2 linked regions of the Homo sapiens genome follow. The protein of the gene in region 1 purifies or fractionates together with the protein of each later gene. This does not show direct contact. Each region holds a gene or a part of one and is shown on either strand. Other genes may lie near its edges. The genes, in order: CFAP210 and DSG4.

The links.
Region 2: the proteins of CFAP210 (region 1) and DSG4 purify together in Homo sapiens (affinity purification with mass spectrometry; 2 studies listed by BioGRID and IntAct, with this or other methods). This does not show direct contact.

Annotation. Positions count from the first base shown.
Region 1 is NC_000002.12:169,647,003-169,658,541, forward strand, and holds part of CFAP210 (cilia- and flagella- associated protein 210), read right to left. Parts: exon of another isoform or gene 11,522-11,539; intron 7,213-11,521; coding exon 7,073-7,212; intron 3,520-7,072; coding exon 3,327-3,519; intron 2,345-3,326; coding exon 2,180-2,344; intron 1-2,179. UniProt on the Homo sapiens protein: Microtubule inner protein (MIP) part of the dynein-decorated doublet microtubules (DMTs) in cilia axoneme, which is required for motile cilia beating.
Region 2 is NC_000018.10:31,405,132-31,416,670, forward strand, and holds the end of DSG4 (desmoglein-4 isoform 2 preproprotein), read left to right. Parts: intron 1-945; coding exon 946-1,242; intron 1,243-4,320; coding exon 4,321-4,460; intron 4,461-4,613; coding exon 4,614-4,677; intron 4,678-5,978; coding exon of another isoform or gene 5,979-6,099; coding exon 6,100-6,317; intron 6,318-7,696; coding exon 7,697-8,464; 3' UTR 8,465-9,778; downstream 9,779-11,539.

The sequences.
Region 1 (11,539 bases):
CCCAAACCTGATATCTATCATAAATTTAAATTTTTGATGGAATAGAGCAACCATATTAGTGTGAAATATCAAATTTTTCATTATTGAGTGCTACAATTCAAAATTCAGTTTACATACTATTTGTGAAATTGGGGATAAAATGCCAGAGTTTTAAAAAGTAGAAAATGACAATAAGATTGGAGAAAAAGTCAAAAAAAAGCTAAAATCGATCTCTAATCGAAGGTAAAATGCTAATATTTGGGAACTTAATAAGCAGCAATTTGGATATGTTTAGTAAATGTAGAAAAATATTGAGGGAACAGAAAGAACCACTTGAAGCACAGAAAGGAAGTGACAATGGAAGGAAAGAATTACTATAATGGAACATATGATTGGTACCTCACATTTGATATGCATTAAGCATAAATATATAAAGAAAAAGTTCCAAAAAATTAAGTTTAAAATCCTAAAAAACGCTAACAGATGAAGGTAAAGTACCTTCGAAGTACATTTGGAAGATAATAGCTAATTAACTGTCTGAAAACTGGAAAATAAGGCAAAAAAAATCAAGTATTCTGTTTTTTTCTTTAAAAATTGTACCTAAGAGGAACCAAGTATTTGATCAAGAAAACTTCTTAAAGACTTCAACAAGTAAATCAGAAGGATTCCAAATACTGATCTTATTTGATCGTGATTGAAACAACAAACTATTTTGGCACCTGGCCAAAAATTTAAAACTTTTATACATCAAAGATACTATCAATGGAGTAAAAAGGTAACTCATGGGATGGAAGAAGACATTTCCAAATCATGTATCTGATAAGAGATTTAATACACAGAGTATTTTTAAAACTTCTAAAACCCAACAACAAAAAATCCAATTCAAAAATGGAGGCCGGGCACAGTGGCTCATGCGTAGTCGTAGCACTTTGGGAGGCCGAAGCCAAGGTGGGCACTTCAGGTCAGGAGTTCGAGACCAGCCTGGACAACATGGTGAAACCCCATCTCTACTAAAAATACAAAAATTAGCCCAGCGTGGTGGTGGGCACCTGTAATCCCAGCTACTTGGGAGGCTGAGGCAGGAGAATTGCTTGAACCCTGGAGGCAGAGGTTGCACTGAGCCGAGAGTGGGTATCATGCCACTGCACTCCAGCCTGGGCAACAGAGCAAAACTCTGTCTCAAAAAAAAAAAAAAAAAAAAAAAAAAAAGTGAAAACCAAACAGAAAAGGACAAATATTGTCTGATTCCATTTATGAGGTACCTAGAATAATCAAATCCATTGAGATAGTAAAACAGAGGTTACTCAGACTGGAGAAAAGAGGGGATAGGGAGTTACTGTTTAACATGTACAGAGTTTTAGTACAGGATGATGAAAAACCCTGGAGATGTATAGTGGCCATGATCAATGTGAATGTACTCAATGCCTCTGAACTGTACACTTAACCATGCTTAAAATGGTACTTTTTATGTTATGTATATTTTACCACAATAAAAATCAATTTTAAAAAACTCAGCACTAAGAAAACAACCCAATTAAAAATTGGCAACACTCTTAAATAGACACTTCACAAAAGAAGGTATGCAGATGGCTAGCAAGGATGTGAAAAAAATGTCCATTATCTTTGGTCATTAGAGAAATGTAAAATAAAGCCATAAGATATCACTATACTAGAATAGTTAAAATTAAGGGATGACTATCAAGTGTTGATGAGTATGTGGAGTAAGTTGTGCTTGCATACATTGCTGGTAGGAATGGAAAATGGTACAACCATTTCAAAAACAGGTTTTAGTTACAAATGATTGGATGCTAGGTCCTCTACACATCTTTTAAAATCTGATATCTCCATTCCTCAAATCTGAAACCTATGAGATCGCAATCAACATAGTCTCTGAGATATGGGAAAAAAGTAAAACAAGATGAACATTATGGCCTCCACATGCATTTGTATTTTCTTTAATATTTACTGAAGTATAATAGACACTAAAGAAGGATAAACATTCATTTAAAAGATAAAACTCACATGGGAACTTCACTGGAGATAGAAACAAACCTCACATTTTTAATACATTTTATTGTGTCATAACCATAATGACCATTTTTTTCTTACCTGATGAAACTGCTTGGGAGTAGAAAACTAGCATGAATTCTGTATTATATACTTATTACTAACATAATTATAAACATTCAGGAGTAATTACCATTTGCTGAATATGGGCATCTTGAACCTCTTGATGTTCTTTATCAGCTTTGCATTTTTTCTCCTTTTCATGTTCCCAGAAAATCTGATCTGCTTTCATGACAGCCAGCAATTGTTCTTTAGCCTCTATTTTTCTTTGTCTTTCTTCTTCCTCTTTATTTTTCATCTAGATGTTTAAAGGCAAAGGAAACATATAAAACCAGTTATAGCAACCAGTCTTGTCTGAAAAGGCACAGAGTCAGAGAGTTGAAGCAGAGGAGAGTCAGCCAGGAGCAATGCAGGAGCAGAAAAGTGCATGCACCTGGGGTGGTTCCCATGCGGCCAGTTTACTTTGGTTTTGTTCTATTTCCTGAATATCAGAAAATACCCAAGTGCTATAGGACAATCCTTATTGGCTTGAAAAAGATGAAAAGCAAGATCTTCTCAAGGAAGGGAAATATATGTAAGTAAAAAATTAATTGCTCCAGCCATACTTGGTGGCTCAACACCTGTAATCTCAGCACTTTGGGAGGCCGAGGTGGGCGGATCACCTCGGGAGGTCAGGAGTTCGAGACCAGCCTGACCAACATGGAGAAACGCTGTCTCTACTAAAAATACAAAATTAGCCAGTCATGGTGGCGCATGCCTGTAATCTCAGCTACTCTGGAGACTGAGGCAGGAGAATTGCTTGAACCCAGGAGGCGAAGGTTGAGGTGAGCTGAGATCGCACCACTGCACTCTAGCCTGGGCAAAACTCTGTCTCAAAAAAAAAAAAATTGCTCCAATGTGTATAAACTATCCAAATTAAATGTTATGACAGTCATGTAAGATATGTTTTAAAATATTAAGAAACAGAAATGTATAATTTTTACATGGTTTGTCTTTAAAACCTACAAATGAAAAGTATAACAAATAACCTTTGCGTTTCAGATGGTTCTGAAACAGAAGAGATTATTACTTTGCATCTATAAATATCTTTTTTGTAACTGTCGTGTCATCTTTGTTAGGAAGTAAACATTGTCCAATTTCAAAAATACAGGAAGATAATTCATACATTGTTTTTAATATCTTGGCTAGTTTTTGGTTAGAGAGGCAGATGAGATGGAAAACACAGTGGAAAGGTCCTAACTCTGTCTTTCTATTTTTATTTTCATAATTGAATTGTTTACCACAATGGCTCGATATTCTGCAATTGTTTTTAATTCTGCTTTGTTTTTTTCATCTTTTTCTCTTTCTCTTTTTTCCCATTCAGCCTCAGCTTCTGCAATATCTCTAGCAATAATCATATCTTCATTGTCAAGTTTCTCTTTCAACAGTTCACTCAGGAAGTTATGTATTCTTTCTCTTCGTTTCTCCATAAGCCTATAACAAAATAACCATACTCGTCAAATCTTCATGAACACATGTCCAATGGAGCCAACATAATTTAATTAGGGAATCTGAGATATTTTGCAGTCTCTTACAAAACTAACAGGAGCCCCATTGCTCCTTACATATATTATTTTAAGTGGACATTATTTTTTAACTATAAAGTAACATATATTCTAAAATCCAAAGACAGTAATATGTATAATCTGTGTGTGTGTGTGTGTGTGTGTGTGTGTGTGTGTGTTTAAGAAATAAGATCTTAAAATTATCTACACTGAAAAATATTTTAGGCCAGGTGTGGTAGCTCATGCCTGTAATCCCAACACTTTGGGAGGCTGAGGTGGTAGGATCGCTTGAGCCCAGGAGTTAAGAGACCAGCCTGGGCAAGATGGCAAGACCCCATCTCCACAAATTTTTTAAGCTGGGCGTGGTGGCTCATACCTGTAATCCCAGCACTTTGGGAGGCTGAGGCGAGCACATCACGAGGTCAGGAGTTCGAGACTAGCCTGACCAACATGGTGAAACCCTGTCTCCACTAAAAATACAAAAATTAGCCGGGCGTGGTGGCAGGCGCCTGTAATCCCAGCTACTCAGGAGGCTGAGGCATGAGAATCGCTTGAACCTAGGAGGCGTAGGTTGCAGTCAGCCGAGATCACACCACTGCACTCCAGCCTGGGCGACAGAGCAAGACTCTGTCTGAAAAAAAAAAAAAAAAAATTTAGCCAAGCGCAGTGGCACGGACCTGTAGTCCCAGCTACTCAGGAGGCTGAGGCAGGAGGACTGCTTGAGCCCAGGGGTTCAAGGTGGCAGTGAGCTATGTACCACTGTACTCCAGCCTGAGTGACAGAGTGAGACTCTATTAAAAAAAAAGAAAAAAAATTTTTTTTGAGACTGAGTCTCACTGTCACCCAGGCTGGAGTGCAGTGGCACAATCTTGGCTCACTGCAACCTCCACCTCCTGGGTTCAAGCGATTCTCCTGCCTCAGCCCAGCTAGTTTTTTTATTTTTAGTAGAGAGGGAGTTTCACCATGTACCCAGGCTGGTCTTGAACTCTTGACCTCAAGTGATCCGCCCGCCTCAGCCTCCCAAAATGCTGGGATTACAGGTGTGAGCCACTGCACCTGGCCACAGAAAATATTTCAATATTTTATCAGACTACCCTGCTTACTCTATCATTGGAGGCTGAGGCTATAAAAGGCCTTTATTTAAATAAAATCAAGGAAATAATCTAATAAAAGTTATCAAAATCCTAAATATCCATCCCCTCACAATACTCTGTCTGGAATTTATTCACAGCACTTTTTTAACTTGATCTGTTTAAATTTCTCCCTTTACACTATAAGGTTCCTTTTTTTTTTTTTTTTTTAAGAGACAGGATTTTGCTATGCTGGCCAGGCTGGTCTCAAACTCCTGGCCTCAAGCAATCCTCCTACTTTGGCCTCTCAAATTCACTATGAGATTCCTCAGGTCAGAAATTGAATGGGTCCTCTCTCTAGTTAAGAGCCTAAGCATGTGCCTGGTACATCATAAGAATACATCTTGTTAAATTAGGGCATTTTTATTTATGAAATTGCATAAAAAATAATTTTGTTGTGACAAATTCACTTAGTGAATTGGCAAAGCAGCATGTGAGAAATGATGAGAAAGGATACAGTGCATACTCCAAGGAAATTACAATTTAAAGTGGAGAAAAGACATTTATGCAAATGTCTTTATAGTTATAGAAGACAAAAGATAATAAATGCCATGAGAAAGCTAGAAAATGATATGGACAAATGAGAAAAAAAGAAAGCCTTCAGAGAAAAGGTGACATTTCTGGTAGAATTCCAAAAAATAGTATTTTAAACAGTTTTATTGATTGCTTACTATGCTCCTGACACTATTCCCGGTGCTGGGGACAGACATAACAGTGAACAAAAACATTAGAAGTTGGGCATGGTGGTGCGCACCTTTAGTCCCAACTACTCAAGAGGCTAAGATAGAAGGATCCCTTGAGGCTATGAGGTTGAGGCTACAGGGCACTGTGATCACGCCTGTGAATGGTCATTGTCCTCCACCCTGGGCAACATAGCAAGACCTCATCTCTAAAAAAAAGTTTTAATAAAAATAAAAATCTCTGCCCTCATGGGGCTTTCATGATTGCTGGAGGAGAGGGACAGTAAACAAAATAAATAGTTTTAAAAAATAGCCGGGCGCAGTGGCTCACGCCTGTAATCCCAGCACTTTGGGAGGCCGAGGCGGGCGGATCACGAGGTCAGGAGATCGAGACCATCCTGGCTAACACGGTGAAACCCCGTCTCTACTAAAAATTACAAAAAAAAAACTAGCCGGGCCTGGTGGCGGGCTCCTGTAGTCCCAACTACTTGGGAGGCTGAGGCAGGAGAATGGCGTGAACCCGGGAGGTGGAGCTTGCAGTAAGCCGAGATCGCGCCACTGCACTCCAGCCTGGGCGACAGAGCAAGACTCCGTCTCAAAAAAAAAAAAAAAAAAAAAAAAAAAAAAATATATATATATATATATATATATATATATATATATATGTATGTGTGTATATATATGTATGTATATATATATAGTGCTATATATCAAGCAACGAGGGCGAGGAAAGCAGGTAAAGTGATAAGCAATTGGGGAGGGGGTATAATTTTAAATAAAGTAGTCAGAGAAAGCCTCAATGAGAAGGTAATATTTAAGTACAGATCTGAAAGAGTTAAGAAAGCAAGTTACGTGCTCTCTGGAGGTGAGCATTCCTTAGAGCAGGCAGAGGCCAGTCCAGTGCAGGTGAGAAGAGGGAGAGGAGGGAATAGTAAGAGAAGAGGTCTGAGGGATAAGGCTGGGAGGGATGAGCTGGGAAGATGGAAATTTGGGTAGGTGGAGAGCCTTATGGGCCATTGTAAAGACTAAGTGAGATGTGAAGCCATCAGAGGATTTTGCACAAGGGGAAAGCATGATTTAGACAGAAACCCCCTGTACTGCAATCTGGCCTCCTACTCTTACCTCTACACCCCATACCAAACTGCTCACTAATATAAGCAATGTCCTCTAAATCTGATGAATACTTCATTTTAAAAATTGTACTTAATCCCATTACGACCTAATACTGATGACTGCTCCCTTCTTACTGAGAGTCTTCTCTCTGATGTTTCCCTGGTTTTCCTCCAATCTCTGGAAACTATTTATTGGTCTTCGTGTTATCTTCTTTTTCCATTTGACTTTTAAATGGAGTTCCCTAGGGACTATGCCACCTTCATTTCTTACCTACTCACCCTAGGTGAGCTCATCTGTATCGACAACTCCAACTACCACTTATATACCAATGACTCACAAAGCCATCTTCAGCTCATACTTCCTCTGGGATGGCAGATCAGCATTTCTGACCATCTACAAGATGATGTCCTCACACCCACGTCCCAAACTGAAATCAAGTCACTGAATGCTCTAGTCATATATAAAATAAGATCTCTGTTCCTAAAGACTACTGTCATAATAATCATAAAATCATAATAATTTCAGATAGTACTTTATTATACACATTATTAAAGCCTACCTGTGTGTTTCAGCCTCTTTTTCTTTCCCCATTTGTATAAGACGCTTTTTTGCTTTGATGAATTTTCTCATCTTTTCATCTTCTTCCTCTTGCTGCTGCTGTTCTACAGCTTTGATAATATGTTTATCCTGCATATGTTCCTTGGGGGAAAAATTGTATATATTAACTTATCACAAAGAAAAATATCTTTCAACATATCAGTAGCTAACAAGAACCTGTCAAATGGTCACAGCTTCTGACCCAGTTATTTCTCTCCTGGAAATTTTATCCCAAAGAGATGATCAGAGAAGTGCATAAAGGTTTATGTGTCATGTAATTTATCTCAAAGTTATTTATAATAGCAAAAAAATGGAAACAACCTCTAAATATTCAATCATAGAGAATAATCATTGAGAATATAGTTAAATAAATCATACTCTCAATTACATGAGATGTGATTCAAATAATATAATCAATAAGTAGGTGGGGGAAAGCAGAATATGTAACATTACATAGTATATTCCAATTTCACAAATACATGTAAGTACAACTTTATAATGTATAAATGACTGGAAGAAATGTGTCAAATGTTAACAGTAGTTATCCCTGGGGTATGAGATAATAGGTAACTTTTATATCTTCTTAATGCTTTTCTGTATTTCTCTTCAAGTATCTCATGTCTTTAAAGTATACAATTTAAAATAATTGTATAAGAAAAAATACACCAAATATATATATATAATATAAAGTTCATTTAATGTTTGAATAGTCATATGGTTCAAAAACCAAAAATGTTTTTTTACATACACAGTGTAGCGAGCGTCCTTCCACTCCATCCACTATGTCTCTTCCTAATCCTCCCTCCAGACTCAAATCACTATTGCTAGTTTCTTGTCCAAACTTTGCTTTTGCATACATATAAGAAAAAACAGATATGTATTCTAACAAAAATTGTAAAAGTAGGTCACTAGTATTTAAAACAAAAAGTAAAATCTGTTCATATTAGCATATGTTCTATGATCTCAGCCTGAGTTAGCCATCATAAAAACAGATGCCATTGAGCACAATAGCCTGAATATATAGATATATTAGTATATTCTGTTATTTAGACAGGGTGTCTGTTGCCCAGGGTGCAGTGGCATGATCACAGCTCATGAAAGCCTTGAACTCTGGGGCTCAAGGGAAACTCCCACCTCAGCCACCAGAGTAGCTGGGGCTACAGGCACGAGCCACCGTGCCTGGCATATTCTGTTATTATGTAAGTAGAAACCAATTCAAGGTAAAAGTTGTTAGGGGCATCACTTAATCTTCCAATATATTTATAACTCAGGGTCTACTATGTGCCCAGCACTCTTAACTAATCTCCTATTTTATGGGTTAATTTTAAAAGCCTGTAATCTGGATAGGAAATATATTGGTCAATATGATCAATATGAAAAACTAAAGCAAACAGCAAACTGTTAAAAGTGTTTTGGATAATTCCTTACATGTTTTATTTTGCTGTTTTCTCCAAGTTTATTCTAATATTCACAAAGACTTTTTATAATACAAAAAATACAGATTTGATTAACACAGAGTTAATTCTCATTTTTCAATATTGAAAGCTTAAGCTCAAGGTCATATAGCCAGTAAATGGCAGAGTTAGCATTAAAAACTAGGTCTGTCCTACTCCAAGCCTACTTGGAGACATAAAAATTATTCCACCCCTTAACCAATAATCAGATTTTAATGAAAACAATAACAACATTTCAAGTAAAAGTCTTAGGAATTAAAATTTTCATAGCTAAAATAAAAAAATTAATAGAAGACTTAGAATACAAAGTTGAAACTCAGTAGAACAAAAAGAAAACGGCAGAAACAATTAGTTGCCTAAGCTTCGTTAGCAGCAGGACCCAGATTTTATTCAGGGTAGAAATATGCTCAGCTGAAAGACTACATGTGCAGCTTTCTTTTCAGCCAGGTGTAACAAAATTATGACCAATGAGATTCAGGGAAAACTGTTAAGTGGGACTTCTTGGAAAATTCCTTAAAAGGAGAACAGCCTGGGCAACATACCAGAACCATCTCTACAAAAAAGACCACAAAAATTAGACAGGTATGGCAGCACATGCCTGTAGTCCCAGCTACCAGGCAGGCTGAGGTGGGAGGATCACTTAAGCCCAGGAAGTCAAGGCTGCAGTGAGCCAACATCGTGCCACTGCACTCCAGCCTGGGAAACAGAGTGAGACCCTGTCTCAAAAAAAGAGGAAGAGGAAGAAGAGGAAGAAGAAGAAGGAGGAGAAGGAGAAGAGAGGAAGAGGAGGAAAAAGGAAGAAGAAAGAGGAAAGAGGAGGAAGAGGAGGAGGAGGATGAAGTAGAGAAGGAGGAGGACGAGGAAGAGAAGGAAGAGGAGGAAGATGAAGTAGAGAAGGAGGAGGAGGAGAAGGTGGTGGAGAAGGAGGTGCGGGAGGAGGAGGAGGAGGAGGAGGAGAAGGAGACAGGAAATAGAGTACTCCCTTTTGACCTTCATCCTTTCTTCTTTCTTGCTATCCAGAATGTGGAGATGAGGGCTAAAACTCCAGCAGCTATTCAGGGCCATGAGGCAAACTTGAGAACAGATGCCATCTATGTACAAAGAATAACAGAGTAGACCGGGCGTGGTGACTCACACCTGTAATCCCAGCACTTTGGGAGGCTGAGGCAGGCAGATCACCTGAGGTCAGGAGTTCAAGACCAGCCTGGCCAACATGGTGAAAACCCATCTCTACTAAAAACACAAAAATTAGTGGGGTATGGCGGTGGGTGCCTGTAATCCCAGCTACTTGGGAGGCTGAGGCAGGGAGAATTGCTTGAACCTGGGAGGCAGAGGTTGCAGTGAGCTGAGATCATGCCACTGCACTCCAGCCTGGGTGACAGAATAAGACTCCATCTCAAAAAAAAAAAAAAAAAAAAAAAGAACAGAGTAAAAAAAAAAGAGAAGAAGGTGTCGAAGGTGTCTTAGTCCCTGTTAATTCTATAGCTGCCATTACCAGACACCCCTGCACTTTAAACCTGTATATTATTTTGGGTTTTCTATCACATGCATTTAAGCCTTCTCTTAACTAATGAGAAAAGATTCTTAGACATTAGAGCATTATTTCAAAAAATCCAATGTCTATCAGAGGGATTCTAGAACAATAGAAAGATAAAATGGGAGGGGACAAAATTATCTAAGAAATAAAACAATAAAAGTTCTCAGGATGAAAGAAATATGTTTACAGAATAAAAGCATCAACTGAATGCCCAGAAAAATGAATGAAGGCACATAATTCAAGGCACATCTGTAAAATTTTGGAGCACCAGAGATAAAGACAGGACCCTAAAACCATTCGGACAGAAAGAAGAAAAAGAAAAAAAGAAAAATGGCTGGGCACAGTGGCTCATGCTTGTAATCACAGCACTTCAGGAGGCCAAGGCGGACAGATCACTTGAGGCCAAGAGTTCGAGACCAGCCTAGTCAACATGGCGAAACCCTGTCTCTATTAAAAGTACAAAAATTAGCCGGGTATGTGGCACATGCCTGTAATCCCAGCTACTCGGGAGGCTGAGGCACAGGAAGTGCTTAAGCCCAGGAGGCAGAGGTTGCAGCAGTGAGCCAAGATCATGCCACTGCACTCCAGCCAGGGAGGCAGGGTGAAACTGTCTCAAAACAAAATGAAACAAAAAAAAAATAAGAAAGAAAAGTAAAAATGATTACATATGTCAGATGAAGATCATCAATGGCATCATACTTTTCAGTAGCAATACTGGATGCCAGAGGAATATGAAACAATTAATACAAAATTCTGAATTCTGAACCCAGAATTCTATAACCAATCAAACTGTAAATCATGCATGACTTTAAAAGATAAGCTTTTCATACTATCATACTTGTCCTTAAAAAATAATAAAATAAATAAAAATGAGTAAAAAATAAACTTTTCAGATAATTAAAAAATTTTACCTCTCATACACCCATTCTTAAGGAAGCTATTCAAAGGTGTATTATAGCAAGACGAGGGAGTAAATCAAGAAAGAAAAAGACATAAGCTTCAGGAAATCAGAGATTTAGCCCTAGAAAGTAATATTCTATGCACACATCACAGTTTTTAATGTTAACAAAGGTGAAACACATAACATACACCCTTACAAAAAAGGTCAAAATGTAAAATTAAAACTTTAAACTCTTAAAAACTACAAAAAAGTTTGTGTTGGCTACCATTTGTACAACATATTTAAACATTTTCATTTTGTGGCAGCACATGAAAAAAGTGATAGTAGAAAATAAAGTCATTGGGGGTTTTCAAATAGCAGAATTGGCAGTTTTGCCATGTAGGAGAAGCAAATAAATATTAGTTTCCCCAAAATTCACATTTGAAAATATTTAGATAAAAGTCACAGAATTTTTCTCAGTAGAGACCCCAATAATTAGCTGCTGTAGGTTACCTGTTTGAAAGGACAATATCTCTTTAGAGTATAACTTTACTAATT
Region 2 (11,539 bases), on another chromosome or scaffold:
AAAAAATATTGTGTGCTATGGATCAATCAGTTACTATTCATGGTTTAGCTGTAAATTTAATCATCTCAACACTCCTTGTATTAATAAATAAATTCCAATGAATATTTTAGACAATATGTTTTATGAAAATTCATAGGCAATGATAGCACAAAGAATTAGGAGAATGTGAACAATTTTAAATGAAAGGGCAACAATTTTGAGTAAGATACATATAAACAGTCTTAAGGAGGGTATTGTGTAAACTGTAATCCTAAATAGAAGACTTCTAATATTTTCTTTCAGCTCAATATTATTTATTCATTGGGCAAATATTTATTGAATGTATATTATATGCCAATTACTGTTGCTCTGGAAAGATGCAGCAAGGTCCTTGCCTGCATTATAGAAGTAGCAATCCAGCAGTAAGCAATACTTATTTAAAAATTAGTTATAAATGTTAAAAAAAAAAAGAAAGAAAGAAAAGTAAAAAAGGCCAGGCAGAATGGCTCATGCTTGTAATCCAAGCACTTTAAGAGGCCAAGGCAGGTGGATTGCTGGAGCCCAGGAGTTCAAGACCACCCTGGGCAATATGGCAAAACCCTGTCTCTACTAAATGTATATATATTAGCCAGGCATGGTGCCACACACCTGTAGTCCCAGCTTCTCAGGAGACTGAGGTGGGAGAATCACTTAAACCTAGGAATCCAAGGCTGCAGTGAGTCATGTTCGTGCCACTGCACTCCAGCCTGGGCAATAGGAATGAGACTCTGTCTCAAAAATAACAAGAATAATAATAATAATAATAAATTAAATAAATGTTAAAAAAAAGTACAAGGTGCTTTATGACTAAGAAAGCATGAAAAATCTAGTGTTTTAAGTCAATATTTGGTATTAGGGAGAGTTAACCACCCCCCTAGCCCACCAAGGAATTTCCATTTATTTTCTGTTTCCTCTCTTCCATTTCAGCTACCTCGGCAATCCTTACGGCTAAGCAGGTTTTATCTCCAGGATTTTATGAAATCCCAATCCTGGTGAAGGACAGCTATAACAGAGCATGTGAATTGGCACAAATGGTGCAGTTATATGCCTGTGATTGCGATGACAACCACATGTGCCTGGACTCTGGTGCCGCGGGCATCTACACAGAGGACATAACTGGTGACACGTATGGGCCTGTCACTGAAGACCAAGCTGGAGTTTCAAATGTTGGTCTTGGACCAGCAGGGATTGGCATGATGGTTCTGGGCATCCTGCTACTGATTTGTAAGTACTCAATTAAATCCTTCTTTTCAATAGTTCTTCAAAATAGGGCTGTTACGAGGCTCGCTGGGATGGTTAGGTTCATGGAGCCATTTCTTTTTGGTATCTCTAGCAATTTTTGAGTGCCTTAGAAATAAACAATGGGACTGACAAATATATGCGCTTAATCCACAATGATAACTAAGAAAGCCTAGGGTGAGTGACAGTCCTAAAAATGGGAAACACATGCAAATCACTACATATACTACCTAAAAGCACAAAACAAATCCCATCATGGAAATTTCCTTAAAATGCTTTAAGAGTAGAGAGGCAGAAGCAATTAAGTCCATGTGGAAAAGTTAGGACAATCTTTTGGAAAAGTGGATTTTGAGGTGAGCCTGAAAAGCTGAGGATTTTTTTTTTCTTTTTTTCTTTTTCTTTTTTTTGAGATGGAATCTTGCTCTATTGCCCAGGCTGGAGTGCAGTGGCGCAACCTCGGCTCACTGCAACTTCTGCCTCCCAGGTTCAAATGATTCTCCTGCCTCAGCCTCCCGAGTAGCTGGGACTACAGGCGCCCACCACCACGACTGGCTAATTTTTGTACTTTTAGTAGAGACGGGGTTTCACCATGATAGCCAGGATGGTCTTGAACTCCTGACCTCGTGGTCCACCTGCCTTGGGCTCCCAAAGTGCTGGGATTACAGGCATGAGCCACTGCACCCTGCTGAGGATTTCTTTTAAAGGAGGATGATGTCTAAGGAAATTTGAAAGGTAATCAAACACACACACACAAAAAAAAACCACACACACAAACAAAAGGGAGCAAGATATGGAAGAGCATAGCACACCTAGGAAGCAGAGAGGCAAAAGGGAGTCTGGGAGCCAGCATGGAGGCATGTTCATGACACACCAGGCATTCTGGGCTTCAGTACAATGGCACAGAAGAGTTGATGAGGGCTGATGAGCGCAGGTGACCCTGCGGTAGGAAGCAAGTAGAAGAGACTAGAACAGAGAATTAGCCTCTGGGCTCTGGGTGAGTGCCTAAACTAAGACTGGTCACAGAAGTGGAAAGATCACCAAACAAAAATTTCCCAAAAAGGGCCCTCCTTTCCCCATAGAGTTTTTTTAAACATATAGATCCTCAGAGGAAGAATACTTCATACATTTTAGGTTGCCCTTGCAATATTTAGGTTTCATGGGGATCAAAAGCTGGGTTCTAAAATTAAAGAGAAGTAAATTTGTCAAACTGTATTGTTGCTGTTTTCAGGGATGAGCACTAATTAAAATGTAATCATTTCAAGGCATAAAAAATAACAGCTGACTTTTGGTGAGGATTTCTTTTTTGAAATAATCTGTGAGGTTTCAAAGCTATGCAAAGATCATGAGTGATTCTCACAATGATATTAGACACATTTTCCCAGAATATAACTCTACAGCAATTGAGTAGTGGTTTCGGGTAAGCTTTGAGTTAGCGGTTCTCAACCCTAGTTGTACATAAGAATTAGTTAAAGGTCTTCCAAAATTACTCATACTAGAGTCATACTCAAGATGAGACCAAGCATCAGCATGTTCAAGCCCTTTGGTGAGACTAATGTGCAGTTCAGGGCTAAAAACCCAGTGCCAGCTGCATTTCCAGAACGTTAGCACTAAGAATTTCAAGACTTTTTCCTGACCCAGACAAAGAAAGCATGAGAGTTGTTCAACTGATGGATTGTAGAATAGGAGAGGAATACCCCTATGGACACTTGTTTTCAATGGAGAAGCCCATGGTCTATTTTAGGAGAGAGGGGGCAGTGTGATGGTAGTGGGAGGGATCTGAGCCCAAACCTATGTTCCCAAAGGGCCTCAAATTGACACTTTTGATGTTAGCTCCAAATGAGATTACACATACAGTAATTGTATTGGGTATGTGCTAAAAACACTTCATTTCATTTATTAGATAGTGCCTTTGTTAGAGTTCAGGCCTGCAATGGTACATGATCCAGCTCACATTTAAATTCACAGAAATATAGAATAGGCAGAACCATGGCCTAGGGGCTACCAATTTTAGTTTTAGTCCTTTTCCAGAAAATGCTATGGAAATGTATAACTTGACCTTTCACTGTTCATAGTGCAGATGGCAAAATTGCCAAATTAATTGTTGTAATAAGACTAAAGCTGATTTTGCAACTTTGATAGTCTCTTCTTTTGTATCTGTTTTTAATTTTTAATTTTTGTGGGTACATAATAGGTGTACATATTTATGGGGTACATTAGCTGCTTTGATACAGGCATGCAATGTGAAATAATCACATCCTGGAGAATGGGGCATCCATCCCCTCAAGCATTTATCCTTCTATTCTTTATCTTTAATTAACCCACTTAGTAAAATGCATGCCATGCTAGAGAATTAGGAAAGTATGAAAAGCAACCAGAGTGGGCCCAAAGAACTAAACAGAGTGTATTCTAGAATCTTAGAAAACTTAAGCAGTGTCTATATTTATGGATTAAAATACAGAATTGAGGTGATTATTAGGGTAACAAATAGGAAATTTCCTCTTAAGAAACACTTGGATAGCTAAACATTTTTGATAGCTTTAATTTTTCATTATAGTCTATAAACAAAGTCTTAAAATAATTGTAAATATCTCCATTAAATTTAGTGAGTATTATTTGACTTCTATTTTAAGTGTAACTGTAATAAGGATTGAAGATAGGTCCTATCTCCAGGTCCTATAGCTGAATCCTGTATTCAATCCTCTTGATAACATATATTCATGATGCGTTTAACTTACATGTATGTGTGCATCTGCCCCAACCAGTTCAAGAGTCTTAGACTAAAGACGACCTTACTTTCCTAATCTGTCAGCAAAGAAATTCAATTACCTGATCGCAAACTCCTTGCCATCTAGCGCTAAAGTTCTATGTGATTTGGTGGTGCTGTATTTATAAACTTGGATATGTATACTCAATCCCCTAAAGGAAAAAAATGAGATTTTCTTACATATATTTGTATTTTTGTTCTAAATATACTGCCACCAAATGCTCCCCAGAATGATTCATCCAGTGACTTCCTAAACCGAGCAATGTGTGTTAACTCGACATTGTCACTTTCTTGGGCAGTGGCTCCACTCTTGCTGCTCCTGTGTTGCTGCAAACAGAGACAGCCAGAAGGCCTGGGAACAAGATTTGCTCCTGTGCCTGAGGGCGGAGAAGGAGTGATGCAGTCTTGGAGAATTGAAGGGGCCCATCCCGAGGACAGGGTAAGTGGACTGTCACTCTCCAGAGAAGTGTGGAGTTTCAGTGGAAATTGAGCATGTCTTAACAATTACATGCTGCACAAAAATGAACAGATGTCAGTTTTTAAATGTTTAACATAAAGCGTTTGTTTTTAAAATGTTTATTTTTCTTTTCAGGATGTGTCAAATATATGTGCACCCATGACAGCCTCAAATACCCAGGATCGGATGGATTCCTCTGGTCAGTAGACACCAAAATCTGTTTTTCCTTTTAAATTTTTCAAAATTATTCAACCAGACCAACTTCATGTAAAAGTACCTTATGGAAAAGTCTGTCAGTCTCTTTGGGTGACAGTATAATTAGAGGGAATGTGACCTGTTTGAAGTAGCCACTTTTTTTTTCTATCTGAAACTACAGACAGTGAAGTATGACACAGCAGTTAAAAGAGCAAACTCTGGAAGCAGAATGCTTGGGTTTGATTCCCAGCTCTGCCACTTGCTTAAGGGTTGCATATCTTTTATCCGAAATGCATAGGACCATGAGTTTGAGTTTGGCTCAAACTTTTTGTACCATGATGATCAAAAAGTTTCAGACTTAGGAGCATTTTGGATTCTTGATTATTGGATTTGGGATGCTCAACCTGTAGTAATAAGTCCTTAGTCAAGACATTTAACCTCACTGGGCCTCAGTTTCCTTATCTTTAAAATTGAGCTTATGATAGTACCTACTTTAAAGTGTTGCTGTGAGGAGTAAATAATACATATTACATATGTAATATATAATACATACATATATTGTATAGATTATTTTATTATATATAACATACATGTGTATGTGTGTCTATATATATACACACACACATATATAAGTGTGTATATATACATATATCACAAAATATACGTTAGAGTAGTGCCTGGCACTGTAGTAATTATTTATAATACAAGCTGTTTTTTTTTAAAGAGCTAAAGAAAAGGCAGTAAATGTACTCTAATAATACACTGAATAACTTTTCTTAACTTCAGACAAGCTTTTGCCTCAAAAGAGTGTCGTAAACTCTCCTATCTTACCAGCCCCACGCATATCTAACAATACTGAACACACTACTTAGCTATATGGCAATGATTGCACCAAACAGAGAGGGTGCTTAATTCTGCAGTGCACGTGAGCTTTCTCTGATGGTTCCTTAGTATCCCAAGCTTGGCCCTTTGTATGCAAAGAAACTCCGTGACTGAACATCCCTGTGAGCCCAGCTCCATCCTGTTCCGGAGTGAAGGAGGACTATGAGCTCAGTTTCTGCAATCACGCCGCTGGCCTTGCTTTGGAGGGCTCCCGGCTGGATCAAGCCCGCAGCAGCCACGGCGGGAACGGGCGCCTGCTTGTAGTTCTCTTGGCTAGTTCTACACCTTTAAGTCTAGGGCGAAGTCTGTGCAAATGTGGGAAGGCCACGTCCCACCACTGACTCCCTCTGTGTAATTAATTTACTTTTATTTGGTCAACAAGCCTGGAGATGTATCGGTGTAACTTGTATCTCTCTTTGTCAGCTTTTTAGCGCCTACGCCTTGCCGGGTGGTGGTGGCACCGCAGACGGCGGCGGCAGCGTTTTAGGCAGATGCGCGCTGCAGGCAACTCCAGCGCTGTTAAACCAACATCCTCCCTTTTCAGAAATCTACACCAACACCTATGCAGCCGGGGGCACGGTGGAAGGAGGTGTATCGGGAGTGGAGCTCAACACAGGTATGGGGACAGCCGTTGGCCTCATGGCCGCAGGGGCCGCAGGAGCCTCAGGGGCCGCAAGGAAGAGGAGCTCTACCATGGGAACCCTGCGGGACTACGCTGACGCAGACATCAACATGGCTTTCTTGGACAGCTACTTCTCGGAGGTAATGCCCTCACAGTCACACATAAAATCGTCTTGAGATTGAATAATAATAATAGTAAAATACTCACAATGGTAGTAGGCCTCTTCGGAAATATGCTGTTATTCTCAACCCTATCCCAAACCTGAATAAAAAGTATTTCACGTCTCCTTAAAACACAAAATGCTAATTTGCCACAGGATTTCATATTCAACTGCCATAGCGCATCTTAGTACCGTGAACAAGGCCACACCCCTCATCATTCTCCACTTCCCTTTTCCATTTTTCTATCTTTTGTTTCCTTGATTCCTCACCTTGTTTCCCACAGCAGTAGCAAAGCAGGAAAATGCTCATCAAGGGGAAAAAAGGTGCATTTATGACCTCTGTTTTTGATGTCCTTCATGTTCTCCCGGAGCCTCCAACAGAAAAGAGAAAATAAAAAGAATTGGGAACGAAAGGAGTTAAAACTCAGGAACGCAGCATCACCACAACTCGTGCTAGATTAAGACCTAGAAGATAGCTCTCCTATTCTCAGTCCAGTGACTTATCCACCAACTGACCTTCACTACGAAAAGGGGTCCAGCAATAGCACTGCTGGGTATATATCCAAAAGAAAGGAAATCAGTATATCAAAGAAATATATGCACCCCCATGTTTATTGCAGCACTAGTCACGTAGCCAATACATGGAATCAACCTGTGTCCATCAACTGATGATTGGACTTCTAAAATGTGATTCATATACCCAATGGAATATTATTCAGCCATAAAAAATGAAATTTTGTCATTTTGCAACAACATGGATGGAACTGGAGGACACTGTTAAGTGAAATATGCCAGGCACAGAAAGACTAATTTGACATGTTCTCACTCATCTGTGGAAGCTAAAAGGAAAAACCGAACTCATGGAGATAGAGAGTAGAATGATGGTTACTAGAGGCTGACAAGGGTAGTAGGGAGGGGAAACAGTGGGATGGTTAATAGGTGCAAAAATACTGTTAGAATGAAGAAGATCTAGTATTTGGTAGCACAACAGGATTGCTATAGTTAACAATAATTTATTACACATTTTAAAAGAACTAAAATAGAACTAGAATTTTATCTCATATTTCAGTCGGCCTGCTTTATTCTCCATCTGTTCATACATGAATTTCACCATGATTCTTTACCAAACAAATGCTGAAGATGTTGTTGCAATTGTAAACTATATCTTAAAATTGGTAGTTACAAATGCTATCACAGAATGTGCATGGATAGTATCAATTATTTTAATGAGTGATTGATACCATTATTCAGTTTATTCCGTAACAACTTAACTCAGAAGTCTCTCTGAGGGATTGCTGTTATTCTTCCTTATTTTAGGGAAAAAGAAATTTCTAATTCTGTATTTCCTTTTAATTTTAGAAAGCGTATGCTTATGCAGATGAAGATGAAGGTCGACCAGCCAATGACTGCTTGCTCATTTATGACCACGAGGGAGTCGGGTCTCCCGTAGGCTCTATTGGTTGTTGCAGTTGGATTGTGGATGACTTAGATGAAAGCTGCATGGAAACTTTAGATCCAAAATTTAGGACTCTTGCTGAGATCTGCTTAAACACAGAAATTGAACCATTTCCTTCACACCAGGCTTGTATACCAATCAGTACTGACCTCCCTTTGCTCGGACCTAATTACTTTGTTAATGAATCTTCAGGATTGACTCCCTCAGAAGTTGAATTCCAAGAAGAAATGGCAGCATCTGAACCCGTGGTCCATGGGGATATTATTGTGACTGAGACTTACGGTAATGCTGATCCATGTGTGCAACCCACTACAATTATTTTTGATCCTCAGCTTGCACCCAATGTTGTAGTAACCGAAGCAGTAATGGCACCTGTCTATGATATTCAAGGGAATATTTGTGTACCTGCTGAGTTAGCAGATTACAACAATGTAATCTATGCTGAGAGAGTACTGGCTAGTCCTGGTGTGCCTGACATGAGCAATAGTAGCACGACTGAGGGTTGTATGGGACCTGTGATGAGCGGCAATATTTTAGTAGGGCCAGAAATTCAAGTGATGCAAATGATGAGTCCAGACCTTCCCATAGGCCAAACCGTTGGCTCCACATCCCCCATGACATCTCGACACAGAGTAACACGATACAGTAACATACATTACACCCAACAGTAAGTGCTTTATGGTCAGTATTCTATGTGGAGACCTTGCACCTTGTAATCATCAATACATCCACCAAAAATATATAATGTACCATATATATTAATAGTCAACAAATACTCAGATATTCTAAGGTCAATGCCATTATTTGATTATACCATTTTGAGGGTGAATATGGCTAGGCACTTTAGATAAGCCTTTTTAAAATTCTTTCTGATTTTAAATAATGCGTCAAAAAATGTGCAGAAAATGTATTGCATCCCTTGATACTGTCTAACGAATAGCACATAACTCATATTGTGAATCCTATGGGTCTTGAGGCCTGTAGAACCAATCTTGTAAACCAAGATGCCTTGTTCTTGGAAGTTACAAAAGAAGCCCTGTCTACATCCACCAGCCATATTTTTCGTTAGGGAAATATTTATATTAAAATTTTTAATTGAAAAGTTGAATGAAATGTACATTCTGAAAGGAAATTGAAAAGGAACGTAGAGTATCTGTCAATATCTTTAGATATCTGAAGTCATTTGTCTCTTCAAAAGATTTTTCAATATTATGCGCTATTAAGCAATAGGAGATGCTTAATATAATAAGAAAAGAGTTTGCCAACTGAAAGCATGGCTGGAAATGGTTCATCAAAGAAAAATATATATTTTTATTGAACTTTATTGATTTATATGATTAACTGTAAATTAATCTAGAATAGCAAAAAAAAATGACAATCCTAAAGTAGAAAGAGTTATTGGGGAAATATTAGAGTTTTCCCCACTTACAGGGAATTTTTTCCCTACTGTTGCCAATTATGTCAGAAAAATACATGAAATATGGCTTAACCAATTTCATTGACCTGAATCGTAGAGCTTTCAATTGGCAACCAGATATTCTCCAAAAGCACTCTGTAGTTATTCATATATTCTACAATATTTACTTAGAAGCAACTAGGTGTTGGGTGCTAGTCTTGGCTCTGTGAATATACAGGTAAAGAAGACAGACATGGTTTCTGCCTTCATAGAGCTTCTATTCATTTCTAGACTTAAAATAAAACTCTGGGATATGGCTTTAAGTTCCTAACAACAATAATTAACCAACTACTTAAGTCCATTACCAAGTTGTGTTTCTCTTTGCAACACTACTGTTTATGTTGAATAAATAAAATGGAAACACATTGCTTACTTTTCGTAGGCATAAAGCTGACTTGAGAAAAAGAATCTCTAGCCAGGTAATTTTACTTAATTCTGTAAAATATGTATACAGTAGCAGCAATAATGTGACTGAGATAATGTAAATGAAATAAACTTATTTTCAAGGCTTAATCCTTTTGAAAGGAAATAATTGTAGTGTTTCTTGCCTATCTTTTGCTCCTTTATGAATAAAACTATTGTAGAATTTAAGTCATCTCAGATAACCTCTTACCTAGTTCTCTCATTTTCTGGACAATGAATCTAGAAATAGAGAGGTTAAATGACCACAACCAGCTAGTTGTGGTACAAAGCCTTGAACCCATTGTTCAGATACGCTAGCCAGTATGCTTTTTTATACTATAACTTCACCAGATCTGAAGAGGATCCAAACCTGCCTGTTGCATACTCTTTGCTATTCCCTAATTGGAAGAAAAACTCTCTCTCAAAAAATTAAGTTTTAAAGTGTAAGCGCAGACCAGCTAAAACATTGTAATGCTAGAAAGTTACTTACATATTTCCTAATATTTTCCAAATTATGTGTACTGCCAGCTGCTACATCCATTTCTCACTTTAGTAAATTTTACTACTCTATAATTGATGAAATCCATGGGGTAGCTAAGGAGCATTGGTCTCATGGTGATTAAACACTCAAGCAACAACCAGCCACATAGCATCTGGCACACACTCCATTCCGTGGCAAATCCTGACATGGATATTTCTCGCTTAAAGTTTGCATTGGATGGCTTTTGTTAAGTCAAAAACTAACACATTGGTGAGACTGCGGAGAAAAGCGGACACTAATACAGTGTTGGTGGGATTGCAAATTAGTCTAGCTACTGTGGAAAATAGTTTGGAGAATTCTCAAGGAACTGGGAGTTGAATAGCCATTTGACCTAGCAATCCCATTACTGGGTATAAACCCAAAGAAAAATAAACTGTTCTACCAACAGGACACGTGTACCCATGTGTTCACTGCAGTGCTATTCACAATAGCAAAAACATGGAATCAATCCAGGTGCCCATCAACAGTGGACTGGACAAAGCAAATGTGGTACATATACACCGTGGACTACTATGCAGCCATAAAAAAGAATGAAGACTGAAGAATGAAATCACGTCCTTTGCAGCAACATGGATGCAGCTGAAGGCCATTATGCTGAGCAAATTAATGCAGGAACAGAAAACCAAATACCTTATGTTCTCACTTATAAGTGGGAGCAAAACATTGGGTTCACATGGACATAAAGATGGACATAATAGACAATGGAGGCTATTAGGGGAAGGAGAGAAGGAGAAGGGCAAGGGCTGAAAAACTGTCTATTGGGTACTACGCTCACTACCTAAGTGACGAGTTCGGTCATACCTCAAACCTCAGCATCATGTGATATAGCTTTGTAACAAACCTGCGCATGTATTCCTTGATTCTAAAATAAAAGTTGAAAAAGAAAAATAACAAAATAAAAAATTTTAAAAACAGGTATTTTTATATATAATGATTTCTATTCTTTTGGGTAGATGCCCAGTGGTGAGATTTCTGGGTTGAATGGTAGTTCTATTTTTAGTTCTTTGCAAAATCTCCATACTGTTTGAATTTTTTTAACTACAAATGGATAAGTAGGATCATACTCTTGGTATATAGAAATACATGTTGTTGTCAGAGAAATTTTTTGAGTGTATTTTAAATTACTGTTATCATTTAACATTTAAAACATGTTAAAAAATTATAAAAATGAACTCAGTAAGTTTTCTCGTCTAGAATATAGTGATTATTTTAAATTTGGGTCTTTTTTTAATATTTTAAACTGACCAAAAAAGTGGAAATCGACCTGCAAAAATAGAGTTTGCATTCTATTAGGCCAATCATTCTAAGAATTATAAAATAGTCAAAACACTATGAGATTTTAGAAAT